Linked DNA regions of Homo sapiens. The protein of the gene in region 2 purifies or fractionates together with the protein of the main gene of each other region. This does not show direct contact. Each region holds a gene or a part of one and is shown on either strand. Other genes may lie near its edges. The genes, in order: UNC45A, CDKN3, PTPN5, ROCK1, ARHGEF28, HDHD5 and ARK2N.

The links.
Region 1: the proteins of CDKN3 (region 2) and UNC45A purify together in Homo sapiens (affinity purification with mass spectrometry, with the first as the bait; one large-scale study listed by BioGRID). This does not show direct contact.
Region 3: the proteins of CDKN3 (region 2) and PTPN5 purify together in Homo sapiens (affinity purification with mass spectrometry; one large-scale study listed by BioGRID and IntAct). This does not show direct contact.
Region 4: the proteins of CDKN3 (region 2) and ROCK1 purify together in Homo sapiens (affinity purification with western blotting, with the first as the bait; one study listed by BioGRID). This does not show direct contact.
Region 5: the proteins of CDKN3 (region 2) and ARHGEF28 purify together in Homo sapiens (affinity purification with mass spectrometry, with the first as the bait; one large-scale study listed by BioGRID). This does not show direct contact.
Region 6: the proteins of CDKN3 (region 2) and HDHD5 purify together in Homo sapiens (affinity purification with mass spectrometry, with the first as the bait; one large-scale study listed by BioGRID). This does not show direct contact.
Region 7: the proteins of CDKN3 (region 2) and ARK2N purify together in Homo sapiens (affinity purification with mass spectrometry; one large-scale study listed by BioGRID and IntAct). This does not show direct contact.

Annotation. Positions count from the first base shown.
Region 1 is NC_000015.10:90,937,593-90,942,035, forward strand, and holds part of UNC45A (protein unc-45 homolog A), read left to right. Parts: intron 1-2,138; coding exon 2,139-2,231; intron 2,232-2,713; coding exon 2,714-2,881; intron 2,882-4,443.
Region 2 is NC_000014.9:54,410,077-54,414,519, reverse strand, and holds part of CDKN3 (cyclin-dependent kinase inhibitor 3), read right to left. Parts: intron 3,037-4,443; coding exon 2,814-3,036; intron 1-2,813. UniProt on the Homo sapiens protein: May play a role in cell cycle regulation. Dual specificity CC phosphatase active toward substrates containing either phosphotyrosine or phosphoserine residues. Dephosphorylates CDK2 at 'Thr-160' in a cyclin-dependent manner.
Region 3 is NC_000011.10:18,739,071-18,743,513, forward strand, and holds part of PTPN5 (tyrosine-protein phosphatase non-receptor type 5), read right to left. Parts: intron 4,360-4,443; coding exon 4,252-4,359; intron 4,006-4,251; coding exon 3,922-4,005; intron 3,434-3,921; coding exon 3,192-3,433; intron 2,818-3,191; exon of another isoform or gene 1,723-2,817; coding exon 1,533-1,722; exon of another isoform or gene 1,354-1,532; intron 1-1,353. UniProt on the Homo sapiens protein: May regulate the activity of several effector molecules involved in synaptic plasticity and neuronal cell survival, including MAPKs, Src family kinases and NMDA receptors.
Region 4 is NC_000018.10:20,951,068-20,955,510, forward strand, and holds part of ROCK1 (rho-associated protein kinase 1), read right to left. Parts: intron 4,179-4,443; coding exon 4,100-4,178; intron 3,978-4,099; coding exon 3,716-3,977; intron 2,719-3,715; coding exon 2,511-2,718; intron 321-2,510; coding exon 317-320; 3' UTR 1-316. UniProt on the Homo sapiens protein: Protein kinase which is a key regulator of the actin cytoskeleton and cell polarity.
Region 5 is NC_000005.10:73,912,325-73,916,767, reverse strand, and holds part of ARHGEF28 (rho guanine nucleotide exchange factor 28), read right to left. Parts: intron 1-4,443. UniProt on the Homo sapiens protein: Functions as a RHOA-specific guanine nucleotide exchange factor regulating signaling pathways downstream of integrins and growth factor receptors. Functions in axonal branching, synapse formation and dendritic morphogenesis.
Region 6 is NC_000022.11:17,139,065-17,142,636, forward strand, and holds part of HDHD5 (haloacid dehalogenase-like hydrolase domain-containing 5 isoform 2 precursor), read right to left. Parts: intron 3,145-3,572; coding exon of another isoform or gene 3,005-3,144; exon of another isoform or gene 2,333-3,004; coding exon of another isoform or gene 2,329-2,332; intron 2,170-2,328; coding exon 1,995-2,169; intron 1-1,994.
Region 7 is NC_000018.10:46,211,658-46,216,100, reverse strand, and holds part of ARK2N (protein ARK2N), read right to left. Parts: intron 291-4,443; 5' UTR 221-290; coding exon 1-220. UniProt on the Homo sapiens protein: AMPK substrate important for exercise capacity and skeletal muscle function.

The DNA.
Region 1 (4,443 bases), on a different chromosome or scaffold from region 2:
TCTCCTGCCTCAGTCCCCCAGGTAGCTGGGACTACAGGGGCCTGCCACCACGCCCGGCTAATTTTTTGTATTTTTAGTAGAGATGCGGTTTCACTGTGTTGGCCAGGATGGTCTGGAGCTCCTGACCTTGTGATCTGCCTGCCTCGGCCTCCCAAAGTGCTGGGATTACATGTGTGAGCCACTGCACCCAGCCGAAAATATTTTATTTTTTAAATTTATTTTTATTTTTATTTATTTATGTATTTTGAGACGGGGTCTCACTCTGTCACCCATGCTGGAGTACAACCTCTTCCTCCCGGGCTCAAGCAGTCCTCCCACTTCAGCCTCCCAAGTAGCTGGGACAAATGCATGTCACCACGCTCGCCTAATTTTTATATTTTTTGTAGAGACAGGGTTTTACTGTGTTGCCCAGGTGGCTGGTCTTGAACTCCTAGGCTCAAGGGATCTACTCACCTCAGCCTCCCAACTGGCTGGGATAACAGGCGTGAGCCATGGCACTGGGCCAAATATGCATTTTTGTTTCTTTATTTTTTCAGGAAAATATTTTAAAAGATATACATCAAAATGATAACACGGTGACCCCTGGGGAAAGGAATGGGATTGAGAGGGCTTTCCAAAGGAGACTGCATCACCTGTTCATATTTTTTTAATAAAGAGAAATTGTGTAAAATACGTATATTTTTAAATTAGGAGAAAAGAATCTAAAGACCATTATGAGCTACAACCAAGCTCAAATTCGCCAGATAATTTGACGTTAAAATGCTGACACAGTGGAAGCAGATAACATGATGGCAGACACCTCACTGAAATGTTGAAGCCTGGGAAAGCAAATAGGTTTCCTCTCTCAATGCCAACTCTGATTGGCAGTGGCTGCCCAGAGTCCTATGTTGAGAAGAATTAGGAAGCAGATTGCCTGAGCCAAGCAGGGGAACGTGCCATGACTGGTTAGTCATGGCTGCCATGGATGCAAGAGAGGAAGGCGGGTGGTCCACATGCTAGGCTTGTGCCACCATCTATGCCCAGGACTCTGGGGGGTGGGGGAGTAGGCCTAGGATGATCTTCCCCATTCAGATTATTTATTTATTTATTTATTTGTTTGTTTTGAGACAGTCTTATCCTGTCACCCAGGCTGGAGTGCAGTGGATCTCTGCTGACTGCAACCTCCACCTCCCAGATTCAAGCGATTCTCCTGCTTCAGCCTCCCGAGTAGCTGGGATTACAGGCACCCGCCACCACACCTGGCTAATTTTTATATTTTTAGTAGAGACGGGGTTTCACCATGTTGGCCAGGCTGGTCTCAAACTCCTGACCTCAGGTGATCTGCCCACCTCGGCCTCCCAAAGTGTTGGGATTACAGGCGTGAGCCACCGTGCCTGGCTTCAGATTTTATTTATTTATTTTTTTGAGACAGAGTTTCACAGTTATTGCCCAGGTTAGAGTGCAGTGGCGTGATCTCGGCTCACTGCAACTTCCGCATCTTGGGTTCAAGTGATTCTCCTGCCTCAGCCTCCCGAGTAGCTGGGATTACCGGCATCTGCCACCACGCCCGGCTAATTTTTTGTATTTTTAGTAGAGATGGGGTTTCACCTTGTTGGCCAGGCTAGTCTTGAACTCCTGACCTCAGGTGATCCACCTGCCTTGGCCTCCTAAAGTTTTGGGATTACAGGCGGGAGCCACTGCGCCCAGCTCAGATTATTTTTAAAACAGTGAAAAGAGAATTCTGGAGCTAAAGGAAGTGTTAGCAACTACCTCACGATCTGCCAGCTCCCTGGCAGGAGGTATAAATGCTGAGTTCAGTGCCATGGGAAGCCCATTCACGCTGCCACAATGTAGATGGCACCACTGGGAGTGGGTTGCCTCGTAGCTGACAGGATACCTCCCCTCCGAAAAGGCACTCCAGCATCGGCGCAGCCCCTGCTGCCCAAGCAGGAAATAGCTCAGAAAGAAAAACAGGTGCGGGAAATTTAGGAGGCACTGCCAGGCAAGTCTCTTCCTGCCCAGGGTAGCTAGGTGCTAGCCCTGAGCCTGGACATCTTTACTGTGCCTCCCAGAGTGAGGAGCTGGAGACAAATGAATAGGGAGTGTGATGTCTCTGGCCAAGAGCCGTGATTTGTTCCATGCTTTGTTGGTTTGTCTAGGTGCGATACATGTCCTCGACGGATGCCAAAGTGGAACAGATGTTTCAGATACTGTTGGACCCAGAAGAGAAGGGCACTGAGAAAAAGCAAAAGGTATAGGCCCTGGGCTGAGTCAGTGAGTGAGCTCCCACTAGAGCCACCCATCCATAGGCCCCCGAAGCCACTGCTGCCTTGCTCTGCCGCTCCTCCAATCGTGCAGCTGGGCTCACGGGGCCTGGATGGGAGCTCTGAGGGTCTGGGGCTTTAGCGTGAACCAAGGAAAGAGAACCAGTGTTCACAGAGTACCTTGTTGGCCACGCCCTGTGCCAGGAACTGGGTGTACAGAGGTAACTGAGGCACTGTCCCAGCCCCTCAGGCTCTGCTGGGGACTCATTTGCTCTAACCATCAATCCCGAGAGAAGGCTCTTCCCTCTATTTACAGAGGAAGCTAAACTTCAAAGAGGTTATTTTTTGGCCGTGGTCACTCAACTGTGAAGTGGAAGCAGAGAGGTCCAGGGCTCGGGGCCCCTGCTCACCAGTGCTGCATCCTATGCCGTGTGCAGTGTCAACATTATAATGTGCTTCCTTTGACGCAGGCTTCTCAGAACCTGGTGGTGCTGGCCAGGGAGGATGCTGGAGCGGAGAAGATCTTCCGGAGTAATGGGGTTCAGCTCTTGCAACGTTTACTGGACATGGGAGAGACTGACCTCATGCTGGCGGCTCTGCGTACGCTGGTTGGCATTTGCTCTGAGCATCAGTCACGGGTAGGTGGAGTGGAGAGGCTGGTTACAGCTTCAGTCCCTTTGTCTGTCTGTCCATCCATTCCTCCATCCACCCATCTGTCCATCCGCCCATCTGCCCGTCCATCCATCCATCCACTCTTCCACCCTCTACCCCTTACCTTATTCTAAAAAGAACTTAGGTAGGTTATGGTGCCTCACACCTGTAATCCCAGCACTTTGGGGGGCTGAGGCAGGTGGATCACTTGAGGTCAGGAGTTCAAGACCAGCCTGGCCAACAAGGCGAAACCCTGTCTCTACTAAAAATAAAAAAATTAGCCGGGCATGGTAGTGCACGCCTGTAATCCCAGCTACTCAGGAGGCTGAGGCACGAGACTTGCTTGAACCCAGGAGGTGGAGGTTGTGGTGAGCTGAGATCGCGCCACTGCACTCCAGCCTGGGTGACAGAGCGAGACTATCTCAGAAACAAAACAAAACAAAACAACAAAAAAAGAAAAGGCAGAGTACAAGGAGATACATGTAACAAGAGAGAAAAAATAAAAATGGCGTGAAAAAGACCAACATAAATTAGGATGAAGTGGGGTAGAAAGAGCAAAAACAGCCTTGGGGTACCCCAAGCACTTGCTTTGTAGGGGGCTTACAAGTGTGAGCCCCAGCTTTCCTGCAGCCAACTCACAAAAACACATTGGTCACTGACTCCTTCAATGTCCATATGGCACAAGCAAGCTCATGGCCCAGAATGTGCCTGGCCACCACAGCATCTACCATCGAGACAGTGACCGGACACGTAGGGCTTGATCCCGACATGATTCTCAGCATGGATGGTGGTGGCCCAGCATGGACAGTGCAGCAATAACAGTCCTGCTCCTGGGCCAGTGTGGTGAAGTCCATGCCCCCAGCTCTTACCTGAGCTGGCTTGCTCCAGGGGAGAGGGGACCAAAGACTAGGCCCTTGGTTGCTTTTAGAGGAGCCCACAATTCCTAGATAGGGGTGAAACTGTGAAATAGTCAATGAAATCTCTTTAGGCTAAGCTTGGGCTGCATTCTGGGTCTCCCAAGGCTAAGACTGTTAAAAGCATGTGCATTCTGTTCCCTCCTGCCTTCCGGTCCATTCCAGTTCACAGTCTTGGCCAAGGACACTTAGCTGCTAAGTGGAAGCAGTCAGGATTTGGGCTCAGTGGACCAAGCAGGCCTTCTAGGGTTCTCCAGCTTAGAAACAGGGTGGAGAGGGCCCGGCGCGGTGGCTCATGCCTGTAATCCCAGCACTTTGGAAGGCCGAGGCGGGCAGATCACGAGGTCAGGAGATTGAGACAATCCTGGCTAACACGGTGAAACCCCGTCTCTACTAAAAATACAAAAAATTAGCCGGGTGCGGTGGCGGGCGCCTGTAATCCCAGTTACTCAGGAGGCTGAGGCAGGGAAATGGCGTGAACCTGGGAGGTGGAGCTTGCAGTGAGCCCAGATCGCGCTACTGCACTCCAGCCTGGGCGACAGAGCAAGACTCCGTCTCAAAAAAAAAAAAAAAAAAGAAAAAAGAAAGAAACTGGGTGGAGAGGTCTCACGGGCCCATTCCGTGTACGTGACGTC
Region 2 (4,443 bases):
CTTTTTGCAAGATTAATACTATTTTATACCTTTTGCTATTTTCATCTTTTTTCTTCTATTTGATGAATTCCTACTTATCTTTTAAAACCTCAAATTTCATTTCCTAAAATGCCTTTGTGCTCCTACAGAAAGGATCATTTTCCTGTGTGCTGCCTCTCCTGTCTTATTGCAGTTAAATGGTAGTGTTAGTTATAGGTTCCTCGAAGGTGGGGACTGTGCCTCGTTTGGTAGTCTTGGCGTGTGGTACACGGTAGGTGTTACTGGTTGAATTATGTCCCCCCAAAAGACATGCTGAAGTCCTTATCCTGTACCTGTGAGTGGGACCTTATTCAGAATTTGAGTCTTTGCAGGTATATTCAAGTTAAGACGAATTAGAGCAGGCCCTCATCCTAGATGACTAGTGTCCTTACACAAGGACAACACCATGCAAAGACACAGACATCCGAGGAAGTGTGTGATGACAGAGGCAGACTGGAGGGATTCAGCTGCAAGCCAAGGCCTGCCATGGATTGATGGCCACCACCAGAAGCTAGGAAGAGGCATGGAAGGACTCTCCTCAGTCTCAGAGGGCATGGCTCTGCTCTCATCTTAATTTTGGACTTACATCCTCTAGAAATGGGAAAGAAGAAATTTCTGTTGTTTTCAGCTACCTGGTTTGTGGTACTTTGTTACAATAGCCCCAAGAAACTACAAAATACAGTAGGCAAGCAGTGTTGTTCACTAATTTTATAAAGGGCTGCAAATGTCCAGGCAGAACCAGTGAGACAGCACTGGTAGACAACAGGTCAGTGAAAAAGGTTTACCAGATCCTGTTGCTGAAGGATAAGCTCTATAGCTGTCTAGAAGTGTGGGTCCTCAAAGATGGCAGAATGGATAGAAAATAAACTAGTCACCGTAGGACACCTTCGAAAGCTCTAGGACAATGAAAAATGCCAGTTGTCAGATGCTTTATTTTATGGGAGACTGAAACATTCAGCATATGCAAAGTCACCCATCTACTGTCTATCCTGTTTGTACTCTGCACAAACATCAGAGCATTTGGGTTGCCAGAACCAGCTACAGTAGAATTTGTTAAGCTTCACTTCACTAAACAGAGCTAGTTTGATTTCTGGAAACTTTTCAGTAGAGGCTGCTTTCAAAAATTTATTTGAAAAAAAAAAAAAAGATCTCAAAATGGTTTGAAAAATAGGGCCCTATGTTGGAAAATATTTTTCCCCAGCTACATTTAACTATCTAATACTATTTTACCTATATGTATCAGAAACTTTCACATCATCAACTGGATCTATTTGAAATTTAGCTTTTATAATTAGTACTGGTTAAGTGACTATGCTTTTTCCATAGAGGAAGATGGGAAACAATAGGATGTAGAATGGCTTCTAGTTCTCTACTGCATATTCTGCAAACTATATTTCTCTGTATGTCAGAGTTCAGTTTGGCCACAAACAGGTGTGTGTCCCCAAAGACCCTCGTACTAGTTGGTTTGCCTTCAGAACTGACACTGTTGGCATGAGGCCCCTGGGCTATAGGTTTAAGAGGAGAAGTTGGCTGGGCTTGTCCTATGACTAGGTGCCCTGAGAACCCCATGGCTATTTGATATAATTTCTATACTTCTAGCTCAAAGCAATGTCCTTAAGGAACTTGGGGCTTTTGAGGTCGTAAACTATTTAATACCCTACCTTATTCGAGAAAGGATTAAGCAGGTTATTAGAATATGAAATATACATTATGCACGGCAAAGTCCAGTTTCCTCCCCATGGCTGGCTCTCTGTTGCTTTGTGTGTTTCACTTCCGGCAGAGCATCTCTTGTTTTTTATCCACATCGCCCCTTTGAATCTTTGCCATGCTACTATCTACTGCCCATTGCCACTCTCTCTGGCCTTCCTCCAAGCTGCTTTTCTTTCCTCCTCATTTTGTCCCCTTTCCTTAACCCATCTTCTTTTGTTTTAAACTTTCACACCAGCAGCTTGTGTTTTTATAGCCACTGACACACAATGAGAGGCCCTCTTTCAATCTGTTAGCAGTCATATCATCAAATGTAATTTTCAAGTCATATTTTTAGGATTGCTTATTGCTTAGAGGTAACTTTTTTGGTAGCTAATTTTGAAAAAATCGACTTTCTTTATTTTTTTTTTTCTAGATGGGGTCTCCCTGTCACCCAGGCTGGAGTGCAGTACTGTCACCTTGGCTCACTGCAACCTCTGTCTCCCAGGCTCAAGCAGTTCCCCCACCTCATCCTCCTGAGTAGCTGGGACTACAGGCACGTACCACCATGCCTGGCATGTTCTTTTGTATACTTTTTGCGGAGATGGGGTTTTGCCATGTTGCCCAGGCTGGTCTTGAACTCCTGAGCTCAAGTGAGCCACCCACCACAGTCTCCCAAAATGCTGGGATTACAGGCGCGAGCCACTGCACCTGGCCAAAAAATTGATTTTCTTGCTATTGAAAGCAACTAAGCAATTGAAAAGCTAATAAGTGAGGCAGTGATGGTGATGAGGGGAAAGGAGGGTCCCAAAATTGCAACTAAAGGTCTAAGACTAAAGGAAAGAAATAAAAAAGAAAAGCTTGTAACCTTGTTCTAACAATTTCCAAATCTACTCATTTATTGTCCCTACTCTTGAAAAGTAATAACAGCACGTATTTGACTACTTACCCTGTACCAGACATTGTGCCAGTGCTTTCCTAGTGCATTATTACCTTTTAATCCTTACAACAAACTATGAAGTAGGTGATAACTGAATAGGGCTACCATAATTCCAGAAATCATTTTGACTGAGACATTTCTCACATAGTGTATGGAGAAAAGAACGTACTGTATTAAGGTTTTTCGGTAATTTTTAAGGCAGGTTGTAAGCTCTTCCATTATTTCACAGCAGCTGGCTATGTCAGGAGTCCCTCCATCTGCGATTGGATGATGATGGGTGATAATTCCACATTGCTGGTAGAGATCCAGAAGGTTTGGGACTCTATATTTTGACAGTTCCCCTCTGGTGCAGAAAACAAATATGTCTTGTATACCACAGCTCTTTAGTTCTTCTGCCAATAGACCAGGATACACAGACACACACACATAGAAAACATCACACATTTAAATACCATCAAGAGGGAGAATATGAAATTAAATTTCTTAAGCCAAACTAATACCAAATGACAATCTATAAATCTGAAGTGCCTATTGATATGTCTGAATCAAAAGGGGTCTAGAATTAAACCTCATATTACAAGTCAAAATGCCTTTTACTGAATTTCAAAATAAGTCAATTGCTGTTCTTGCAAAAAATTTTTTTTTGCAATGAATACTGCTTTAAAATAACCCCCCCTCTTTTTTTTTTTTTTTTTTTTTGAGATGGAGTCTTGCTCTGTCACCAGGCCGGAGTGCAATGGCACGATCTCAGCTCACTGCAACCTCTGCCTCCCAGGTTCAAGTGATTCTCCTGCCTCAGCCTCTCAAGTAGCTGGGATTACAAGCATGTGTCACCACGCCCAGCTAATTTTGTATTTTTAGTAGAGACGGGGTTTCACCATGTTTGTCAGGCTGGTCTTGAACTCCCGACCTCAGTTGATCTGCCCGCCTCCGCCTCCCAAAGTGCTGGGATTACAGGCATGAGCCACCATGCCTGGCATAAAATAACTCTTAAAACACTTAAAATTGAGTAGCAAATATGGTTGATTTTGTGAGAAAAAGAAAAAAAGTGCTATCAATTAAGGTATGATAGATCTATGTTCAATTAAGGATGATAGCACTTTTTTTCTTTTTCTCACAAAATCAACCATGTCTGCTACTTCATCACTTAGCTGTTTGCTTGACTCTGAGTATTGTATATAAAATCTCCAGCATGGCCATGGTGTCAGAGGTGCTAGTATTCTCCCTCATATCTGCACTGTAACACATCCTTGTGTATTTAATTTTATAGACTAGGTCGCCAGTAAATAAAACATTACCTGTATTAAACTTCTGTGACCTAGCTATTCTCATTATAATGATATGAATACTATAGGCATTCTATACACTAGGACTTCTTTATGGCAATATTAACTATTGAGCATTTGGTTTAAAATAAATAACTGGATGATCTAAGTGCTCCCAACTCCAGCCCTCTCCCTGTCCCTTAAATCCAAGGACATGTAGCTATTTAAGTACAAAGTACCTTCTCATGAACTAATCCCTGAGATGTACAGTACTATACATCTATTTGCCTTTTGTACACATTTGGTAATTTTTATTATCCAGTGATTTTCCAACTTTCTGAGAAAGGGCTAAGAAAGTATCTCAGGAACTGCTGCAGGGAGATTCTAGGTCTCCAATCAAACATATTGACCTGTTTTATGTACTGGATTCCATTTAAGATTTCATTGCAGAAAAAAAAGTATTTTGAAAAAAATTGGAAACTGTTTTTATAGAAAATGCTAAATGAATATGACATTCCAAAATGTACAAGACTG
Region 3 (4,443 bases), on a different chromosome or scaffold from region 2:
GTCTGTCCACCAGCTTAGCCCCTGACTGCACCTAACTTCACACTGTTCATTGTTTTTGGACACACTAAGTATGGGCTTTGTAAAATGAGGATCATCACACTTTCCAGGATTGTGAAAATCAAAATAAAAATACAACACGTGCAAAACTGCCCCCAGAGTGGGTGCTCAGGCCACGCTCCTTCCTCAACAAAGACCCACCGGACAGGAAATGAGGTAGAGGATGTGATTCTTTCTCGAAGGGGAGATGATGGCAGTGGGAGCTCAGAGAAGGAGCTGAGGCTGGGGTGGTTAAAGAAGGCTTTCTAGAGGCATCTGGAGTGAGTGATGATGTGAGCAAAGGCACAGGAGGAGAAAGGCACGGACGAGACTGGCCCAGTTTGAAGTGGACAGTCCCTGCAGGGGTGGGGCATGGGGCATAAGGCTGGAAAAGGAGGCTGGGGCCACACGAGGTAAGGGGTGCTGATGGTGTATGCAGGTGGTACCAAGTTCTGGAGAACTTGGAGCAGCAGATCAGATGATGATGGAGGTCTTCTCACAGGGGAGAGCTACCCGGTCCAGACAGGCCCAGGGCGGAGGCCAAAGGAAGGGAGCTATGAGGGAGGAGGCACCTGCTTCTGTACCCCTGTGGCTTCTACCAGGAGGAACTCACCCCAGATACTCTTGGCCTCTTGCCTTTTCCTGCTCACAGAAGTGAGGAGTTACCTGTTTGGTGAATTTGGTTGAGGAATGGAGCTTTGGAGCCTCAGCCCCTTCCTTCCTCCTCCTCTCAGGGCCCTCCTGCCAGGAAAGAATTATAGGGGTGCCCCCATGCGGCAAGGTCCGAGATGTGCCGGCACCCCTGTGGAGGGTGGAAAGTGCATGTAATTCTGGGTCTCAGTATCGGGAGGCTCACTCTTGCTGTACCCTGCTAAGCCACATTTCCAACCTGTATTTTATTGACAACAAAGGTGATATTGTAATCTCCTATGCCTTAGCTCTTAACTGGCTGAGCACTCAGGCAGGTAAACAGGGGTGCCATTTATTGAGCCCCTCAAAGTCCAATAGGAGGCAGCTGGAGGCTGCTGCAGAAGCCAGGGTGGAGGTGATTAGGACCTAAGCTAGGGCCCCAGGGGTGGTAACGAGGGGAGGCCACTAGAGAGATTTCAAAGGCAGAAGAACAATGCTCGGCAGGAGGAAAGTGGGAAAACAGAAGAGTTAGAAGTGAAGGTTCTCTGTGGCTTTCAGAGCACAGCACTGGGCAATAAAGACTTAGCATTGTCACTGTACCTCCATCACCTGGCTGGGTGCTCTGCACATGTTATAAGTCTCTTTAATCTTTGCAACAATTCTATTATTTTCATCCCCATTTTCCAGATGAGGAAACTGAAGCTCAGAGGGAAAGCAGCTTGCCCAAGATGGTGGGAGAGCTGATAATAAAGTGATACTAATCTACTGCAGATGCTGAGTTCCAGGCACCACGCTCCACCACCTGGGCAGGTGGATGATTGACATGGGTCTGCACACAGTGGGGCGACCGGCTCAAGGGAACTCACAAAGAATTCCGCCTGCAGCAGGAAAGGGTCCAGGGCCTTTTCATGAAGCTCTTCTGCTTGGAGGACACGGGAGGCGCTGAGCAGGTACTCGCGGGCGGACTCCTCACGTGGGGACATGAGATAGCCAAAGCCCTCCTCGTTGCAGCCCGGAGTGCACATGTCCAGGGTCAGGGAGACATTGGAACCCCTCCTGGAAGGACCAGGAAAGGGAGTGTGAGCCTCAGGGGCAGAGGGACGGGCATGAGCTGGGGTCTCCAGGGCTGGGAAAATGAGGGAGGGAGAGATCAGCTGGGAACAGGGTGGGGTTGAGGAAGAGGAGTGGGAGTGTGACAAGACCCCCTGACAAAGAAGCGTGAATCTCAGCCCTGAGGCATTGGCCTGACTCCCTATCTCCTGCCTCCTGCAGTGGAGATGTTAACTTAGTGGGGATTTGGGGCTCCAGTTCTAAAAGTTCCATCCAAAGCTACCCCAACATGGCCTTACCCTGGACTCTCCTCCATCACCGTTGGAGGAAGTTCTACCCTGTGGTCCCCAGGAAGCTCAGAGAGGGGACACCTGCCTGAAGCACAGAAGCGGGGCTTGGGCCCGAGAGGATGGCTCCAGACCCTCCCCACTGCAGTCCCGGGCCCAACAGCCCTGGGATGAGGCTGCTGGTGAGTCAAGGACATATTGTCCAGGAGAGGCCAGGACCCCCGCTGTCAGGAAGGAGGGAGTCCCAGGAGCAGCACGGTGGCCGCAAGGATGTCTACAATGGGCAAACTCTACTATACTCAGAGTCTCAGACACAGGACAGGATGGGGCTTCATTACATAGAAAGAGAAACTGAGTCCCCATGAAGGGCCAAGAGTTGTCCAGGCTCTCCCAGTAAGGGGGTGGCAGAGCTGAAATAAAAAGCTAGGTTTCCTGACTCCACACCCAGTGTTCTTTCTGTGACATCACATGGGTAACTCAAATTTGGTGTGATCTGGCTCACCCACCTAGACTCTGAAACGAGGGTGTCTACACTTCTCAAAGTGTGCTCTGTGGAACACTATGAGCTACCCTATAAAAACAGGTTCTAATTGGGTACCCAGGTACATAAAGATGGCAACAATAGAAACTGGGGACTACTAGAGGAGGGAGGGAGAGAGGCGGGCAAGGGATGAAAAACTAACTGCTGGGCACTACGCTCAGTACCTGGGTGATGGGATCATTTGTACCCCAAACCTCGGCATTATGCAATATGCTCAGGTAACAACACTGCACATGCACCCCCTCAATCCAAAATAAAAGTAAAACAAAAAAATAGAGTTCCGTGGTCAAGTGACTTTGGGAAATGCCACATACTGCCCCCTTGCTGATTTACAATGAACATAAGCATGTTAAAGGCCCTGACAAGTCCTGCAGCAAAGAAAACCACCCAAACTTACTTGAGCATGGGAGAGTGTGTGTGAACATGTGTACACCTATGTGTGCGTGTGCAGTAACAGTATTTCTCAGCATTCATCTTGGGGCACTTTGATCTCTATGAATGACCTGGATAGCACATGTCTACACTGGCTAAGCTATAAGGCCAGCTCTGCCCTGGGCACCAGGAGTCAGAGTCAGGCATCCACTCTTCTGATCAGGAGCTAAGAGCTCAAGGGCCCGTGGAGCCCACCCCTCCTCCACCCCTCCCACCTCTCCTGCAGACCCATGGACTTGACGGTGAGTGAGGTGGGGTCAGCCTCAGGCTTGATGTCCATCACACAATCAAACACAGGAGTCTCGGGCACCGGGTCGAGGTCCAGGAAGTCATCCTCGATCTTCTCCTCCATCCACTCTGAGTAGGTGAAGGAGGGCTGGCGGCTCACTGACTGGCGCCTGTCCTCAGGGGGCAGTGGGGTGGGTGGCTCTGGGGGTGTCCTCAGGAGGTGCCACACCTGGTTGGGGTGTACAGCATCACAGATTTCGGACCACGCTGGCTGCCCCCCGTGTTCCTGGAGTGCCCATGGGATTGACGCCCCCCCACTCCCTCAGTGTGTCTAGAGCAGCTCTGCTCTCCTGGGAGTTGTCCACAAGGCACTGCCCCTGGCCTCGATGGGAGGCTCCATGCCCACTCTCCTTCCCTGCCCCTCCCTCTCCCAGCTCTCTGTTTCTTGTGGCTTCAGGCCTTCTCAGTGGGGCTTGGGAGTTCCTACACCAGTCTTCTCCCTGTCTCATCCCCTTTCCTTAGCCCAGATCACTGCAAACCAATTTTCGGAAAGAAGGAGGCTCTTGCCCCAGGCTGGCACACTTGTGCAAAGAGATAGGTATCCCTCCTTGCCCCACCCAGAATGTCCAGCCTATAAGTCAGATGGGAGCTGGTAGAAATCCAGGCCTCAAGGTCAGAGGAGGACAGCCTTGAGGTTGGGGTCAGGAGGCGCCTTACCAGGGTGGTAACGAGGACCAGGCCCACGGACAGAAAGACCAGCAGCAGACTGGGGACTCCCCACGTCCCAGAGTCAAGCCAGGCCTGGGGAACATCAGATAAACAGGTCAGGGTGGTGGTGGGGGCAGAGTTCTCAGCTCTTGCAATGATGACAAAACCAAGATTCTGAAAATCACGTCCCAGGTCTGGGATGGGGAGCAGGCAGAAGAACTTCAGGGGCTTGGAAGTATCTTCTGAACTCAGAGAAGCCCAATCTGGAGGTTGGGGAGGGTGGGACTAGAGGCCCCCAACAGATCCCTGCTACCCTAGGACTCCCCAAAGCTTACTTACCGTGGGTTCCAGCTGTTTCAGGAGCGTCAGCAAAGAGGAGACGAGGTTTGTGGCGTTCTGTGACCAGATGTGGCCATAACCGCTGAACCAGAGCACCCCACAGGCAAGCTGGGGCACAGGGGAGCAGGCTGAGTATGGAGCCGGCCCCCTTCCCCCGTGTTCCCCCAGCAGAGCTCACCTGCAGCCTCAACC
Region 4 (4,443 bases), on a different chromosome or scaffold from region 2:
TCTATCACGACTGACAGGCATTTTCTTATAAATCCAAAAAGGCAGCACCTTTTAAAAAAAATATATCTACCTAAGCTTTCCCCCAACTGTACTTGCATTACATAGTAATAATTAATCTAATCTACCTGTAGGCAAACCCGCAATAAAAAAAACCCTCAGTGTGTTGTGCCAAAGCAAGGACAGAAAAACAGCAATCTTAACCCTGAAGCCTGTGATATTTGTGTCAAAGAAACAGCCTGTCTGCTCTGCATGGTTAAAGAAGCCTGGTTTATCAGGTAGCATCCCACACGATTCCACAGGGCACTCAGTCACATGGTTAACTGTTGAGGGAGGGGGAAAAAACTAATTTAAGAAATGCACTCAGTTTAAAAATACAAGAAACAAACATTAGGAGGAAAGGTAAATATACATTATCTTTACATAAAATAATTAACAATTACACAAAATTTGGAAAACAAGGAATAGGAAAAATATACTTAGTATTCTCTCCTCTTTGTTTCTACACATTTTCTTACTCAGCTATAATCTCATTTCAAATCATTTTAGATCCAGTTTACAACCTATGCTCAGGAGAAGGCTGACATAGCATTCTACAGAATTAAGTTAGCAGTAAGGTGATAATACCTGGCATAGTATGGTGGCTGAGAAAGGAAAGGATATAAGTCATTTCAAAGAATTAGGCCTGGTTACTGACAATAGGGCATGAACAAAAGGGATGAATTCAAGATGGCTTTAAGCCTGCTTGGAAGATGTAGGTGACATTGGCAGCGAGGCAAATCAGTGTTAGGTCTCAGCTTCTAATTCGAGTGGCCCTATTAATCTAGGGAGTACACTCTAGGGAAGGTGGTATGTGGTAGAATAGAGGCTTTGGAATTGGACAACATAGGCTTTAGAATTGGACAGAAATGGTTTCCAATCCATTGGCTGTGTGATTGAGCAAACTGCTTAATTTCTCTGAGCCTTATTTACTAATGTGTAAAATGAGAACTTAATGAGATGAGATTTCATTATTTCTCTCCAAGAAAGAGTTAACTGCCTGGTGCGGTGGCTCATGCCTGTAATCGCAGCACTTTGGGAGGCCCAGGAAGGTGCATCACCTGAGGTCAGGAGTTCAAGACCAGCCTGGCCAACATGTTAAACTCCATCTCTACTAAAAATACAAAAATTAGCAGGCCGTGGTGGCATGTGCCTGTAATTCCAGCTACTCAGGAGGCTGAGGTGGGAGAATAGCTTGAACCTGGGAGGCAGAGGTTGCAGTGAGCTGAGATTGCGCCACTGCACTCTGGCCTGGGTGACAGAGCGAGACTCTGTCTCAAAATGAATGAATGAATGAATGAATGAATGAATGAATGAATGGTTATGCCTTATAATTGTTTATCATGGCATAAAACATATTTTTGGAAAAAAGTCCATCAAAAATAGTTAAACAGCCAGGCATGGTGGCTCACGCCTGTAATCCCAGCACTTTGGGAGGCTGGGGCATGCAGATCATTTGAGGTCAGGAGTTTGAGATCAGCCTGGCCAACATGATGAAACCCTCTCTCTACTAAAAATACAAAAATTAGCCAGGCGTGGCATGCGTCTGTAATCCCCGCTACTTGGGAGGCTGAGGCTGGAGAATTGCTTGAACTTGGGAGGTGGAGGTTGCAGTGAGCTGAGATAGCGCCACCACTGCACTCCAGCCTGGGTGACAGAGTGAGACTCTGTCTCAAAAAACAAAAAAAAAAAGGGGGTCATGAGTTCACATCCTTTGAAGGGACATGGATGAAGCTGGAAACCATCATTCTCAGCAAACTAACACAGGAATAGAAAACCAAACACCACAGGTTCTCACTCGTAAGTGGGAGTTGAACAATGAGAAAACATGGACACAGGGAGGGGAACGTCACGCACCAGGGCCTGTCGAGGGATGGGGGGCTAGGGCAGGGATAGCATTAGGAGAAATACCTAATGTAGATGATGGGTTGATGGGTGCAGCAAACCACCATGGCACGTGTATACCCATGTAACAAACCTGCATGTTCTGCACATATATCCCAGAACTTAAAGTATAATAATTAAAAAAACATAGTCACTGATAATACCAAATAATTTTGTATGTTGGGATAGTATGGGAAGTTAACAAAAAAGGGAAAAACAATTTTGGTTTTTGTAGAAAAACTATGCCAACACAGTTAAAAAACAGAAAAGATGATGAAAAGTTTTATATGAATTTCTGCATTAAAAAAATTAAGTTGGTTAAAGCATTAAGGGCTAAAACTATGCCATGTACAGCAACTTATGACAATAAAATTAGACACAGAACTAAATAAATATAATATTGCATGTATTATTATTATTAAACTCTAACAAGAATAAGTTAAACTAATTTATAAAGTCACTGCAATTCACATACAAATACCTAAAAATGATGCCCTCTGTGGTGAAAAGCACAATTAGATTTCTGATTTTAATAGCTGTTATCCAATCATTTTCACATTGTTAAAAACGTTAGCATTTCAAATCCTTACCTAGTTTTTCCAGATGTATTTTTGACCACTTTCCGGAAAGACTGATTTGCAGTGGATCTTGTAGAAAGCGTTCGAGGGGAAGCACGAACAAAACCAGATGGTGGATTCTTAGGGATTTTCTTTACTAAATGAGTTACCCATTTTTTTTGTTCATCCTGAGAACATGCTAACAGCAGCATATCTCTTGCTGATGTTACATCATAACTTACTATGTTAAGGAGGAAAAAAAAAGCATAATTAAAGCCATATAGTTTTTTAAAATCCAACCTATCAAATGCATAGTTTTTCAAGTTCTTAAGGTTTTAAAAGTTTTAATATGCTTAATTAAGCATGAACAATATCTCATTCTCCTTAAGTTAAATAAGGCTGAAATTAAAAAAAAAAATTAGTCAAACTAATAAAGTAAAATCAGAAATATAACAAAATGTAAAACAAATAAATGTATTTAAAGAACATAAGCTTCTTATCTGAAAATAGCTATGGTCTGTATTCTTTCCCTCAAGCTACCTCTGTAAAACTAGAAGATATTCTGTGATACAGCATGCATGCTGATCCAGGCAGTGAATGCCAGACAAAAAGAAGAGGAAAAACTCAAGGGAGGAATAGAGTGGAACTCACCTGTTGCTCTTCTCTCCAACTTGGAATAATTTCTTAGCAGCATGTTTGTTTGTTTTTGTTTGTTTACAAGGGGGTGATTCTCTTTAAAAACACTGTTGGCCGGGCGTGCAATGGCTCACACCTGTAATCCCAGCACTTTGGGAGGCCGAGGTGGGTGGATCACCTGATGTCAGGAGTTCGAAACCAGCCTGGACAACATGGTGAAACTCCATCTCTACTAAAAATACAAAATTAGCCGGGTGTGGTGGCACACGCCTATAGTCCCAGCTACTCAGGAGGCTGAGATAGGAGAATCACTTGAACCTGGGAGGCAGAGGCTGCAGTGAGCTGAGATCACGCCACTGCACTCCAGCCTGGGCGAGACAGAGTGAGAATCCATCTCAATCAATCAGTCAATCAATAAAAATAAATAAAAACATTTTTAAAAGCTAAATCTGTAAATAGCTGCATATTGCCCCACCAGTGTCAAAATAATACTTTCTATAATCTCTTTTCAACTTGGTATAGAAATCACTACACATAAGTTAGTTCATTGAGACTTAAAATTAAATTTGTTATAAGTTGTAACAATAATTACCATGCCTTACCTTTACATGGACAAATTAAGTCCTCTTTCTTATCTAAGTGATCTCTGTGGCACTTAACATGGCATCTTCGACACTCTAGGGCAGGGGGTGGCTTAAAAACATGCCAGAGAGGTTTGGCACAGGCATCACAATTGGCAGGAAAGTGGTAGAGTGTAGGAATAAACTCATGGCCTTTGTGATTTTGGAAATTAGTTTTTTCAGCTTGTTGTACTGGTTCCATCTCTACATCTTTTCTACATTCACCTTCATTTGCATATAGTATCTACATTCAGGAATGGTGAAAGGAAAAGATTTTAAAAATCTTAAGCATTGGTATATTTTACATTTACTTCACAAAAACGCTTAGGACTTAGATTCTTTAAAATTATAACTTCAGATTTTTACCTGGAATATTTTAGGAATTTCTTCAGTTTCAGCTCTATACACATCTCCTTGGGTTACAGGTCTAACGTGAAACAGTTTACTAAAATGAAAATAAATACAGGCCATTTACAAAAACTCATTTATTGTAAAAGACATTTCACTAAAGAGGACATATGGGTGATAAATAAGCACACAAAAAGATATTCAACATCATCAGTCATTAGAGAAATGCAAATTAAAACCACAATAAGTGTCACTACACATCTATCAGAGTTAAAAAAAATAAAAACAGTAGTAACATCAAATGCTTGTGAGAATGCAGAGAAAGTAAATCACTCATATACTGCTGATGGAAACATAAAATT
Region 5 (4,443 bases), on a different chromosome or scaffold from region 2:
ATGGTAGGGAGAAAAATCATCATTTTGTCCCCTGTTAAGAGCTGAACTGTGTCCCCCCAAAATTCACATGTTAAGGTCCTAACCCCCAGTAGCTCAGAATGTATTTGTAGATACAGCTTTAAAGAATAAAGTTAATTGAGGTCATTATGGTGGGCCCTAATCCAATATCACTGATATAAAGAGAGATTGGGGCACAGACAGGCACAGGGGGAAGACCAGGTGAAGACGCAGGAAGAAGGTGGCCATCTCATCCGCAAGTCAAGGAGAGAGGCCTCGGAAGAAACCAACGCTGCCAACACCTTGATCCCTAATTCTAGCCTCCAGAACTGAAGAAATAAATTTCTGTTGTCTAAGCCCCCTAGCCTGTGGTACTTTGTTATGGCAGCCCTAGTCAACAAATACATTCCCCCTCTTCAAATACACTCACATCATAGAAGTTTATGGTGTCTAATACCAGTTTCAATTTCCAGGAAAATTGCCTAAAGTTCTTTGGGCAAAGCTTCTTTCCATATAGATTACACAAGTAAGGTGTCAATTTCTGAATTATGAAATATTTTAAAACATGAGAAATTATCATCCTCTCACTTCTTAAGACTTATTTAAATACTAAGTATGGCATAGGTTTTCATTTGGAAATTTTCTATTTTCTTCCCTTACATAAAAAACTTGTCAAAGTTTAACACAGCTGTCTTTTAAAAAAAAATTATCAAGATGAGGTATTCTAAATACAATGCTTTGAATTTTGAAAATAGTTTCCTTGGCACCAAATTCTAATATGTAGTAAAAGGAAAGAGAACTCAAACTTAATCAAGTTACTTTTTTCCCAGTATCTATATTATTAACATAAAATTTGGCTTGACTTACATTTTAGCCTATGCATAACAAAATCATAATGCTTTAACTGAACTGAAGAGAACTTTTGGGAAACCTGCAAATATTGAGGCATACAGAAAAATACAACTGAAAAGGGAGATTAGGATTTCAGATTTTTATACCATAAGATGTTTCCTCTGTTAATGAAAAAGGCAAATAACATATAGATGCATTCAATATATAGTTCTAAAATGTTAAAGCTAGGAGAAAAAAAGCCACAAGAATAAAATGTTGGGTTTTTTTATTGTTGTTTCTTTGTTTTTGCCTTTCAGAGTAATGCTGTTGAGCATCTCATAGGGCCGATTACATAGCAATTGTCCCACAGAGACTATTGTTTAAGGAAATTCAAATATTCTGTAGTCTTGGCTGGTGTCCCATAGAGGAGTACAGAAAAAGTTCTTAAGCCAACCATCTCTTCCACTACAAATAAAATATCAATTTGGATTTAATGTTTGAACATCCAAGAATTTTGTTCATGAAATAACTTCCAAAACTGGAAAGTAAAGTTCTTTAAAGTTCTATCTTAAAAAATATTTACAGATAACATGGGTTTATTATTAGGCAACATTGGAGAAACAAAATATTTTTAAGAAAATATCCCTTATGAGAAAAAAGTAAAGCTAAAGAGTATTTATGATACTGAAAATGTTCAGGCCCCATGCAAGAGTTGGCCACAGTAATCCAAAACATTTAGAAATATTTTCCAAATGTTACTATTAAAAAGGGAAGGAGGGGAGAAAAAAAAACCAATAAAAACAAAAACCTGGTCCTTAATCATGAACATCCCACTAGGCATTACAAAAGGATTAGATTAGTTCTATATCTAAACCAACTTCTTTAAAAAGTACAACTCATGGCTGGGCACTGTGGCTCATGCCTATAATCCCAGCACTTTGGGAGGCTGAAACAGCCAATCGCTTCAGTCCAGGAGTTCAAGACCCGCCTGGGCAATATGGGGAAACCCCGTCTCTACAAAAAAGCCAAAAATTAGCTGGGCATAGTGCAAGTCTGTAGTCCCATCTACTCAGGAGGCTGAAGTGGGAGGTTGCAGTGAGTCCAGGAGGTGGATGGAGCCCAGGAGGTGGAGGTTGCAGTGATTGAAAATCACGCCACTGAACTCCAACCTGGGCGACAGAGTGAGACTCTCAATCTCAAAAAAAGTACAGCTCAAAACAGCTTTCTAGAAATTAATAATTTAGCCCGGGTGTGGTGCCTTAAGCCTGTAATCCCAACACTTTGGGAGGCCAAGGCCAGTGGATTACTTGAGGTCAGGAGTTCGAGACCAGCCTGGACAACTTGGCGAAACTCCGTCTCTACTGAAAATACAAAAATCAGCCAGGTGTGATGGCGGGCACCTGTAATCCCAGCTACTCAGGAGGCTGAGGCAGGAGAATCACCTGAACTCGGGAGGTGGAGGTTGCAGTGAGCCAAGATATTACCACTGCACTCCAGCCTGGGCGACAAAGAGAGACTCCTTCTCAAAAAAAAAAAAAAAAAAAAAAAGCAATTCAGAATGTATAGTGTAATGATTGACAGCATGGGCTCTAAAGCCAATCTTCCCAGGTTCAATTCCCAGGTTCAATTTACTAGCTATGTGATCTGGACAAGTTACTTGACCTTTCTGTATCCCAGCTGCCCCTCTCAAAGGACAGAACCATCTCAGTGGGTTGTTGTGAGTATTAAATGAGTTTCCCCATGTAAAACCTTAGCACAGTGCCTGAAATTTGATGTGTCATATAATTACTGGTGGCAGGGGTGGGGGTAGAGCAATTCAGAAACCAATCACAATTAGAGCACAAAAATGTCTGCTGAGGCTGTACTGAAAAAACCAACAGAAATTCCTATCTAGGTGGTATCTAAACACATTGGAGAATTGTTTTTATATACAATTTTTCCCATCAGCCTTACTGTTCCAGAAATTCACATTTTCACTGATCTGAGCTGATCATCTATCCACAGTACCAGACTAGGCAAAAGGGCAAACCATTCTTTAAGATGTTACCTGGAACGGCAGACGTTATGGCCTAACAATGAAAGAGTGACTGAAGCCTGAATGAAATCATGGTTAAGTACACATTTAGCTAAAATACCAGCCCACAACATTATAGGCAAATTATGTTAGCCAGATTACAGTGAACTATGGAGATCCTCAGTAGTGGTCACTGATGGCCACTCACCCAGATTCAGCAGCAAAACACAGAAGAGGGGACAACAACACTGCCTGGTCCTTGGTTCTGGCACATCAGCTGTTACCACCCAGCACACCCTGGAGCCTGCTTCTTCCTGTCCGGCCCCCCGCAGTCACTGTCCCCCAAGATCATGTGTGGCAAGCGCCCACGGAGCCTAGCTAAGGCCATCACCAGTGGCTGATGTTGTGTTACTGTCAATGATAAAAGCTGTGAAAGCTCTGGAGGGTTTGAATAATTTTATCTAGCCTTGACCACTCTTTTAAGTGTATATATCCTATTCTCAATCCACTTTCTTATCACCGCCTATTCTCTGACTTTCTTTTCTCCCCTGTAGAAATTGCTTATCATGAAGTAAACATAAATAAGGTTTTTTGACTAGCTGCAAAACTCCAGTGGTGAACAGTACACACAGCATTTCTGATGTAATCCCTACTTATATAAACCAGGATGTTCCTGAGAGATTTAAGCCACAGTTGACTTTCTTCTCTCCTGTCAATGTCCTGAGCGTCCTTGGCCTACTCTGGACATACAATTTCTTAAGCGTAAGTACATTTCTCAGCATTTCCTTTGGCTCTAATTCCTTACATGTGGATAGACTGGTTTTGTATATAATCACTGTTTATTTCCTTAGTACATTTTCTATCTACTGCAAGTATGCTGCCAAATGGTTTAAAAAGTTTTACTTTGAAGCACAAGTCAATAGAAAAAGATGGGAGATACACAAAAAGTAAGAGACATGCTTCTTTTAAACAAAAGCTGAATGTGGTTTAACTCAAACTGAGTTTCGGAATTATACCAAAGCCAGTATGTAAAACCATGCTGACAAAACCACATGAAGCACTGTAAATAGCAGATTAATGAACCAACACAGCAAAGCAACATGTGCTTAGAAAAAGAATTCTGCAATCTGCTCTCTATTGTAGTAAAGTTGTAAGATAATATATTAAAGAAGTTACATTTTTCAAAATTTGGCTTGACCTTTTATTTAATCTGAACGATTCCATCATATTTTTTCTTTACCTAAAGAATATCTGAAATAATACTTTAAAAAACTATTTCATTCTCTCCTATATGCTGACAAGAAAGAAGAATGTTACCACGGTGACTTAAGTAATGTAAAGAATTAGCCACTATTAAGAATCAACATCTTTTGGATCAGTAATAAATCAACTTATAAGCAGTATCAGAATTATTACTCTTGAATTGGGAGAAGCCAAATACCTTCAAACCTTTTTGTTGCTGAAAAATTATCCTCCAACTGACAAACTAAGAATATATATTAAGCATAGAAACAAATCTGTATCCAGTTCTGAAGACTTCTATACTACTGCTTGTTTTATGTTTCTGAAACATTTTGCTGTGGGTGATTTATTTCACATCC
Region 6 (3,572 bases), on a different chromosome or scaffold from region 2:
TGCGCTTCTCCCCTTCTTTGCTGGTGTCCATTTTCAGCTGACCATATTGCCACTAGGTGTGAAAAAGACCTTCGCTTGCCTCCCTGCCAGCGAGGCGTGGCCATGTGACTAAGCTACAGTCAAGGAAAGCAGAAATGCTGGGCTAAATTTTCAATAAGCATCCTTAAAATTGGGGACAGGCGGCCAGGCGCAGTGGCTCATGCCTGTAATCTTAGCACTTTGGGAGGCCAAGGCAGGTGGATCACCTGAGGTCAGGAGTTCAAGACCAGTCTGGCCAACATGGTGAAAGCCTGTCTCTACCAAAAATGCAAAAATTAGCTGGGTGTGGTGGCACATGCCTGTAGTCCCAGCTACTTGGGGGGCTGAGGCAGGAGAATCACTTGAACCCGGGAGGCGGAGGTTGCAGCGGGCCAAGATTGCACCACTGCATTCCAGCCTGGGCAAAAGAGCAAGACTCCATCTAAAAAAAAAAAACAAACAAACTGGGGACGGTATTCTTCTCTGCCCTCTCTGCCCTCCCCAACTCCTTCTTGACACCTGGAATGCTGATATGATGGCTGGCGCTTGGGTACAATCTCAGCTCACTGCAACCTCCACCCCCTGGGTTCAAGTGATTCTCCTGCCTCAGCCTCCGAGTAGCTGGGATTACAGGCACCTGCCACCATGCCCGGCTAATTTTTATATTTTTAGTAGAGACGGGGTTTTGCCATGTTGGCCAGGCTGATCTTGAACTGACCTCAGGTGATCCACCCACCTCGGCCTCCCGAAGTGTTGGGATTACAAGCATGAGCCACCACATCTTTCAGTGTCATTTATGTAAATAATTCTACTTTTAATTAGAAAAGTTCATCTAAAATCTGGTTTGTAAATTGAAATCTGCCCCTTGCTTTTCAGTTCACAGAGACATAACCAACCAAGCCCACTGATCTAGTGTCAGCATACCCGCCTCTAGGAATAATACTTCAGAGACAATGCCAAGCCTCGAGCCACAGACATACACTTTAAAAGTGACAAGAGCATACCATACCCCGTCTCTCTGGGACTACTGAGACGGGCCCTGAGGCAGTACTGGGCCGTGCCCACCCTCTGCTGACGAGCACTGTCGACTGGGGGTCAACAGCAGGCTGAGACTCAAGAGACTGGCCATGCAGATAACAGCAACCGAACAGTACACAGCAGCTGTCAGCTGGCCTTCAAGTAAGCACCCTGAGGCCAAAAAAGGGCTGCCTCTATCTGTGCTAGCCCCAGAATAAGACAGGACACATGACACCAACACAGCTGAGCAGGGAGTATAGGCACCTGCATGCCCCTGAGAAAGCCACTTATCTGCTGGGTCTCAGTTCTCTGGTCTATACGACTATCAGAACAATCCTTGGCCGGCATGATGGAGCACGCCTGTAATCCCGGCACTTTTGGAGGCTGAGGCACGGGGGTCACTTGAGGCCAGGAGTTCAAGGCTGCAGTGAGCTATGACTGCACCACTGCACTCCAGCCTGGATGAGAGAGTGAGACACTGTCCCCGCAAAAAAAACAAAACAAACAAAAAACGACAAATCCTTGCTTCCTCCTGCCTTATGTCTGAAGGGTAAAAGGAAACCAGAAAGTCAAAGAACCAATGCTACAGGATGGAGCCAAGGAAGGAAGAGCAACTGAATAATGTGCACAGATACGGTACAAAAAGTGCCCACGGTTTGGGATCCACCAGACACCAAGAGCATGTTCTGTAAAGATTACAGGGGGCAGGGGTCACGTGTGAAACATCCTCTCAATACATCCTCAGACTCCATAATCTGTAGTTTAGGTTTAGTAACTAATATGTGGAGTGGTCCTTGAAAGCCCTTCCAAAGGCCAGGTTACTGCAGCAACAACAGGGCCTACCTAAGTGAGGTCCCGGCACCTGGGGTGTCAGGACGGATGGGAACTGCCTGCAGGACTGCCCAGGCAGCAGCCAGGAATAGACCACCAGGCCAAGGCTGGGAGCTTTGTGTCCTCACCTGGGCATCTTGGCTTCAGCCATCCACAGGAGATCCATGTTGCTGGCTAGGACGGGGAGGTGGGGGTAGGGGGGTGTTGCCAGGCCAGCCCCAGGGCTCCCATTGCTGAGGAGGACATCCATGATCAGCTGCAGGCTGGTCTCCCAGCGGACCGGCTCCCCTAGGAGGAGCACCCCTTTAAAGAACAGAGGCGCAGGTGAGGGCTGCAGGGCAGATGGCAGGCGGCAGGCCCTCAGGATGCCAGCTAGGGCTACCCATCCACAAGCCCTCCACCCATGGTGCACCCAGCTGGGCAGGGGCACAGCTCCCCAACAAGCCCAGTAGAGCCCCTTACCCATCCACCCTGGGTGCACAAGGCCCAGGGCCCAGGAAGGAGATTCCTGAGGGCTCCCATTCTGACTTCAGTCCACCAGTGCTTCACAGAAGAGGTTACAAAACAAAAGCAGCATGTCTCAGGGCTACTTCTCCTTGCTGGCTGGGACTCTGCCACCACATTCTCCCTCACATGACTTAGCAAGGGCTCCTGTTCCCTCAGTCGCTTCTCTCTGAGCCCCAGGGACTGGCAGAACCTAACAGCCAGGACAGGGGGTGTGGAGTGATAGAGACTTGAAACCCAACCTGGACTCCACCGATTCTCCTGTATGACTGTGGCCAAGTAACTTCTCTTCTCTAAGCCTCAGTTTCCTCAACTGCAACTACATAACAGCAACAGCACTTAGCTATTGTGAGGATAAAAATGAGCTACATCATCGGTAAACAGCCCAGGACTAGACACACAGTAAGCACTAGGCAAAGAACACTGCTGACACTAAGGTACAGGGCCGGTGAACTGCACCAGACCAGTGATTCTCCATGGGGCAGCACCGCCCCTGCTGAGGTGCTTTACAAATCAGAGGCAATTTTAGTTGTCACAATGACTAGAACCTAGCAAGTGAAGGTTGTGGGAGGGGGCCAGGGACGCTACATACTCAGGACAATCCTGTGCAATCAAAAACTATCCCACACTAAAATTAATTTTTAAAAAAACCATCCCATGGCTGCGTGCGGTGGCTTGTGTCTGTAATTCCAGCACTTTGGGAGGCCAAGGTGGTAGGATTGCTTGAGCTCAGGAGTTTGAGACCAGCCTGGGCAACATAGTGAGAGCCCGTCTCTACAAAACAACAAGAAGAAAAAGAAAAAACTTTCCCATGTCCTCATAACATTTGAATGTCCCACCTGATATCCTGGTATCCACACAGGTGAACAACCTTTTCAGAATTACTTGAACGATTCTATTTTACATACAATCACAAAGCATTTTTGTACAGCTTCAATAAACATCAATTTTTCCAAAAATACAACTATCGTGTAAGTCAAGAGAAGACTGTACTTTGCCTTTTCAAAACTCTACCAAGAACTGTTACCTATTTTGGAAAATCACTTGACCAACGGCAATGCTGCCCCTAATTTCTGAGTCACCGGTAAAACACGCCTGTCACACCTATAAACACACATCAGCCTGCATTTGTAGCTGTTAACATTCATGGTGATTCTGTTTAGTGCAACCATTTTACTTCTTGGATAACTACTACATACTGA
Region 7 (4,443 bases), on a different chromosome or scaffold from region 2:
TGGATGCTAACTGAGACTCAGAAGAGTCCCTTCTCAGTTCCATCAACAAGCAGGGCATTGAAGAAATAACTGTAGAATCCGCTACACCATCTTTCTGAACTTGAGATTCCAGTTCTACAGATCCATCTTCCTCCTTGGCTGTCTCTTGTTCAGATGCTTTTGGTGGGGCTTCGGACTCAATGAGTTCTTCAACTTTTCCCACTGCCTCCTCCATCTTCATTTCAGAATTTCAAGTTAAATCATGGAGTAGAGTCTAGGAAATGATATCAAAGATGCAACAGGAAAGCAACCTGTACAAAAACACACAAAGTCAATAAACAGAATGCCAGATTATTTAGTCAACACAACATGCCTACCTTTCTAAGTGGGTGGGGCAAAACTTACTATTACACAGGCCTTTAAAATATATATATATTATTATCTGCTTGTTTGATCAACAGTCAAATTCAAAGGACTTAATACGGTCAAAATCTAAGCATACTGAGCTACTAAAAATGCCATAATATTAATCCTCTAACTTGAAAGGCCAACATGTAATGAACATTTTCAAGTTTACAATTTTATTTAAAGTGTTCTACAAAGAAATCTTCAAAACTCTGATATAATTAATATGCATTCATTGACTTTGATATAAATGAAAAAGAATGCTTTAAAACTAGTCTAGAAATGCATTACCTGGAATGACTACTTTTACATTCAAATCCAAAAAGAAAGGAGGTGGGAGGAGGGGAGTTACAATAGAGAAACATCAAATGTTTTTGTTTGTTTGTTTGTTTGTTTTTGAGACAGGGTCTTACTCTGCCACCCAGGCTGGAGTGCAATGGTGCAATCTCAGTTCACTGCAACCTCCGTTGCCCTGGCTCAAGCAATTCTCTTGCCTCAGCCTTCCAAATGGCTGGGACTACAGGCGCACACCACCACACCCGGCTAATTTTTGTATTTTTTGTAGAGACAGGATTTCACCATGTTGCCCAGGCTGGTCTCGAACTCCTGAGCTCAAGTGATCCACCCACTGTGGCCTCCCAAACTGCTGGGATTACAGGAGTAAGCCACCGTGCCTGGCCCCTACATTTATGTTTAAAAAAACAAAAACACAAACACACTCCAACTACATGCATTTGGCAAATGAGCAACCAAATACTATGCATCCAACTTGTCTGCAGTCCCCTCAATAGGAGTTGCTCTAGTGAAGCATTAAGATGAAAAGCCAGAATTTGATGCTTCCTCAATCCTACCTAGCTCCCACATACCTCATCATGCTGAATTTGAGTCTAGTGTTTAAATAGATGTTTTATCCACAATGGTCACTAAATACAGAACCCAGAAAGCCTAGTATATTCTATGAATGAATAAAGGGATTTAAGAGAAAATACTCTACACCCATTGTACACTTTGTATGCTAAATTTAGAACCTAACACTCTACCACCACTGTGAGTGATACAACTCCAATTAACCATACAGGTACAGGACATAATATTTAACCTCAAAAGCTTATGACCTATATACAGTTAAGTCCTTACTTAACATTGTCAACAGGTTCTTGGAAACTGAGACTTTAAGTGAAATGACATTTAACAAAACCAATTTTTCTCATTAACCTTATAACTAAAGGACATCATTCAAAGACCAGCAGTATCTTGTTCCATTTAAAGTCGCAGTTTCCAAGAACCTATTGAAAATCTGGTGGTTTTTAAAGAGGATGCTAAATATGGAAAACAAGTAAATACCTTGCCCTGTATGTGTTACATTACAGAAAGCAACTATCATGTCCATAGGTCACAGACACACATAACCATTATTCTATACGGTATGCTAGGTGCAATATGGCATCTCCATCATCTCACTCCATCAAGTTACCTAGATAGTTCAATCTATAGCAGACAAAAACTAGGAAATATTTGCAAAATCCTTTAAAACAGATCTAACATGCCAAGCCCACTTTTTGCTTAATACAAACATAAATATTCTATATGCCTGTTGTTTTTCATAGCCCTGTTCTCAGCTGTTGATAAAACAGGCATTCTGATTAAGTTTCCTTAACACATTCATGGAAACCAGAACATTCATGGCCACTGAAACATCTGTTAATTTAAAACAATCCTAGGCCAGGAGTGGTGGCTCACACCTGTTATCCCAGCACTTTAGGAGGTGGAGGCAAGTGGATCACCTGAGGTTGGAAGTTCGAGACCAGTCTGGCCAACATGGTGAAACCCCGTCTCTACTAAAAATACAAAAATTGGCCAGGCATGGTGGCGAGCGCCTGTAGTCCCAGCTACTCGGGAGGCTGAGGCAAAAGAACTGCTTGAACCTGGGAGGCGGAGGTTGCAGTGAGCCAAGATCACGCCACTGCGTTCCAGCCTGGGTGACAGAGCAAGACTCCATCTCAAAAAAATAAATAAAATAAATAAAAAATAAATAAAACAATCTTGTGTGTAGCCTACTTCACAAGCATATTTGTATCAATTATAATACTAATGTTGGAGGCTAAGTGAAAATCAGCATAAATATTTTTTCTGACACCATTACAAAAAAATGTAACACCTCTGAAAGCCAACAGAGGGAGTAACAGTTAAACCAACGGAGACCGTTATAAATAAAGCATGCTGTCAATACAAACACGAAATAAAATATTCACAGATACAAAATACCCCCAGGTATGAGGAATAAACCCAAGTTCTTTTTTTTAAGCCAGTCAAATTTAGCAGTGGGGGGGACAAAGATTTTCTAACTGAATAAAAATGAGAGTTAATTCTATTATGGAGATTCAAATTGTATATTCTGGAATAATGATTCTTCTTAAGGCTGGGCACGGTGGCTCACGTTTGTATTCCCAGCACTTTGGGAGGCCGAGGCAGGTGGATCACGAGATCAGGAGTTCAAGACCAGCCTGGCCGAGATGGTCAAAGCCCATCTCTACTAAAAATACAAAAATTAGCCAGGCGTGGTGGCAGGCACCTGTAATCTCAGCTACTTAGGAGGCTGAAGCAGGAGAATCACTTGAACCCGGGAGGTGGAGCTTGCAGTGAGCCGAGGTCCCGCCACTGCACTCCAGCCTGGGCGACAGAGTGAGACTTAGTCTCCAAAAAAAAAAAAAAAAAAAAAAAAAAAATTCTTCTTAAAGCTAAAATATCTGAGAAAATATACTCAGATGGAATTAATGTCAGCTATATAGGACAAGCATCAAAAGTCTCAATTTGTGAAAGAAGGCAGCACTGGATATTTTCAAAGTACATAATACAGCATCAGACTAAAAAGTAAATTTGTTAAAATGACCATACAACGCTTGTTTCTTCAAGAAATAAGTTGTGTGGATAAAACAGGTAAATCTAGATTGTTTTTCCCTGTTAAAAAAAAATGACAATATGGCACATCATTCAATTTAATGATTATCTTTCAAGTTCCTTAAATTTGAGTGTTAACTGAGATTTAATTTATACTACCTAAATTAGTAACCGGTATTGCAGTCAAAACCACTTAAATATGCTCAAATCAATCACAAAAGACTAGTATTGACCACAAACAGGACAAAAGTTAGCTCATCATGGTATGTTCATACAATGTGGCCATTAAAAAAATGAGAAAGCACTTTATATAGAGAGGTAAGAAACAGTTCTCACGCAATTTTAATGAAAAAAGATACATTATAGCATTTATGTAAATAAATAACAAAACTATATTTACATGAGTTTATCTGTAGATGCATAGACTCTGGAAAGATACTTAAGAAAATAGTAATACCAGTTGAGAAGGAAAGCAGGTGAATAAGGGAACAGGAGAAGACAGTGTGGTATGCAGTTTTGTATCTCTTGAATTTGTGATGTATACAAACATTATCTATTCAAAAATCCACTCTGACATAAAAGTCTTCTGAAGAAAAAGAAGTTGTGCTTTTCTGGGGCCATAACACTAGACTACTCTTTGGGTCAAGCTTAGTCAATAAATTCTACTATGCTTTCTTCCTATAGTGGAATTTTGCTATAATTAATTAAATACAGGAGAAAAAAGTCACAGAAAGTGAAAATATAAGCTCTGACTAAACTCCCTTCAGTGGAATAAAAACGAAGTGCCCTAACCACAGGGGGAAATGATGTCATACATAAAGATTAATCTTTCCATACAACCAGATTATTTACTGCATATATTGTTTTTGGTCAAGGGGAAAAAAATAGGTTTTTCTGGTAGGAACAGTCAAGTAGCTAGCAGTATAAAATGATATAATTGTCAAATAGGAATTGCATCACATAAATGGCATAAAAGGCTATCAACCCTCTGGGTTAATGTTGACAGTAAATTTATATTCAGTGAAGTAATAAATACACAACATTTTTCCTATTAGAACAGCACTTTCCCCCATGCTGTTCTTCCCTCCAATCTAAACGCAACCTCCTCTACATGAGTACTAGAGCTCATCTCCCTCTCATTTCCCTAATATCTTACATTAT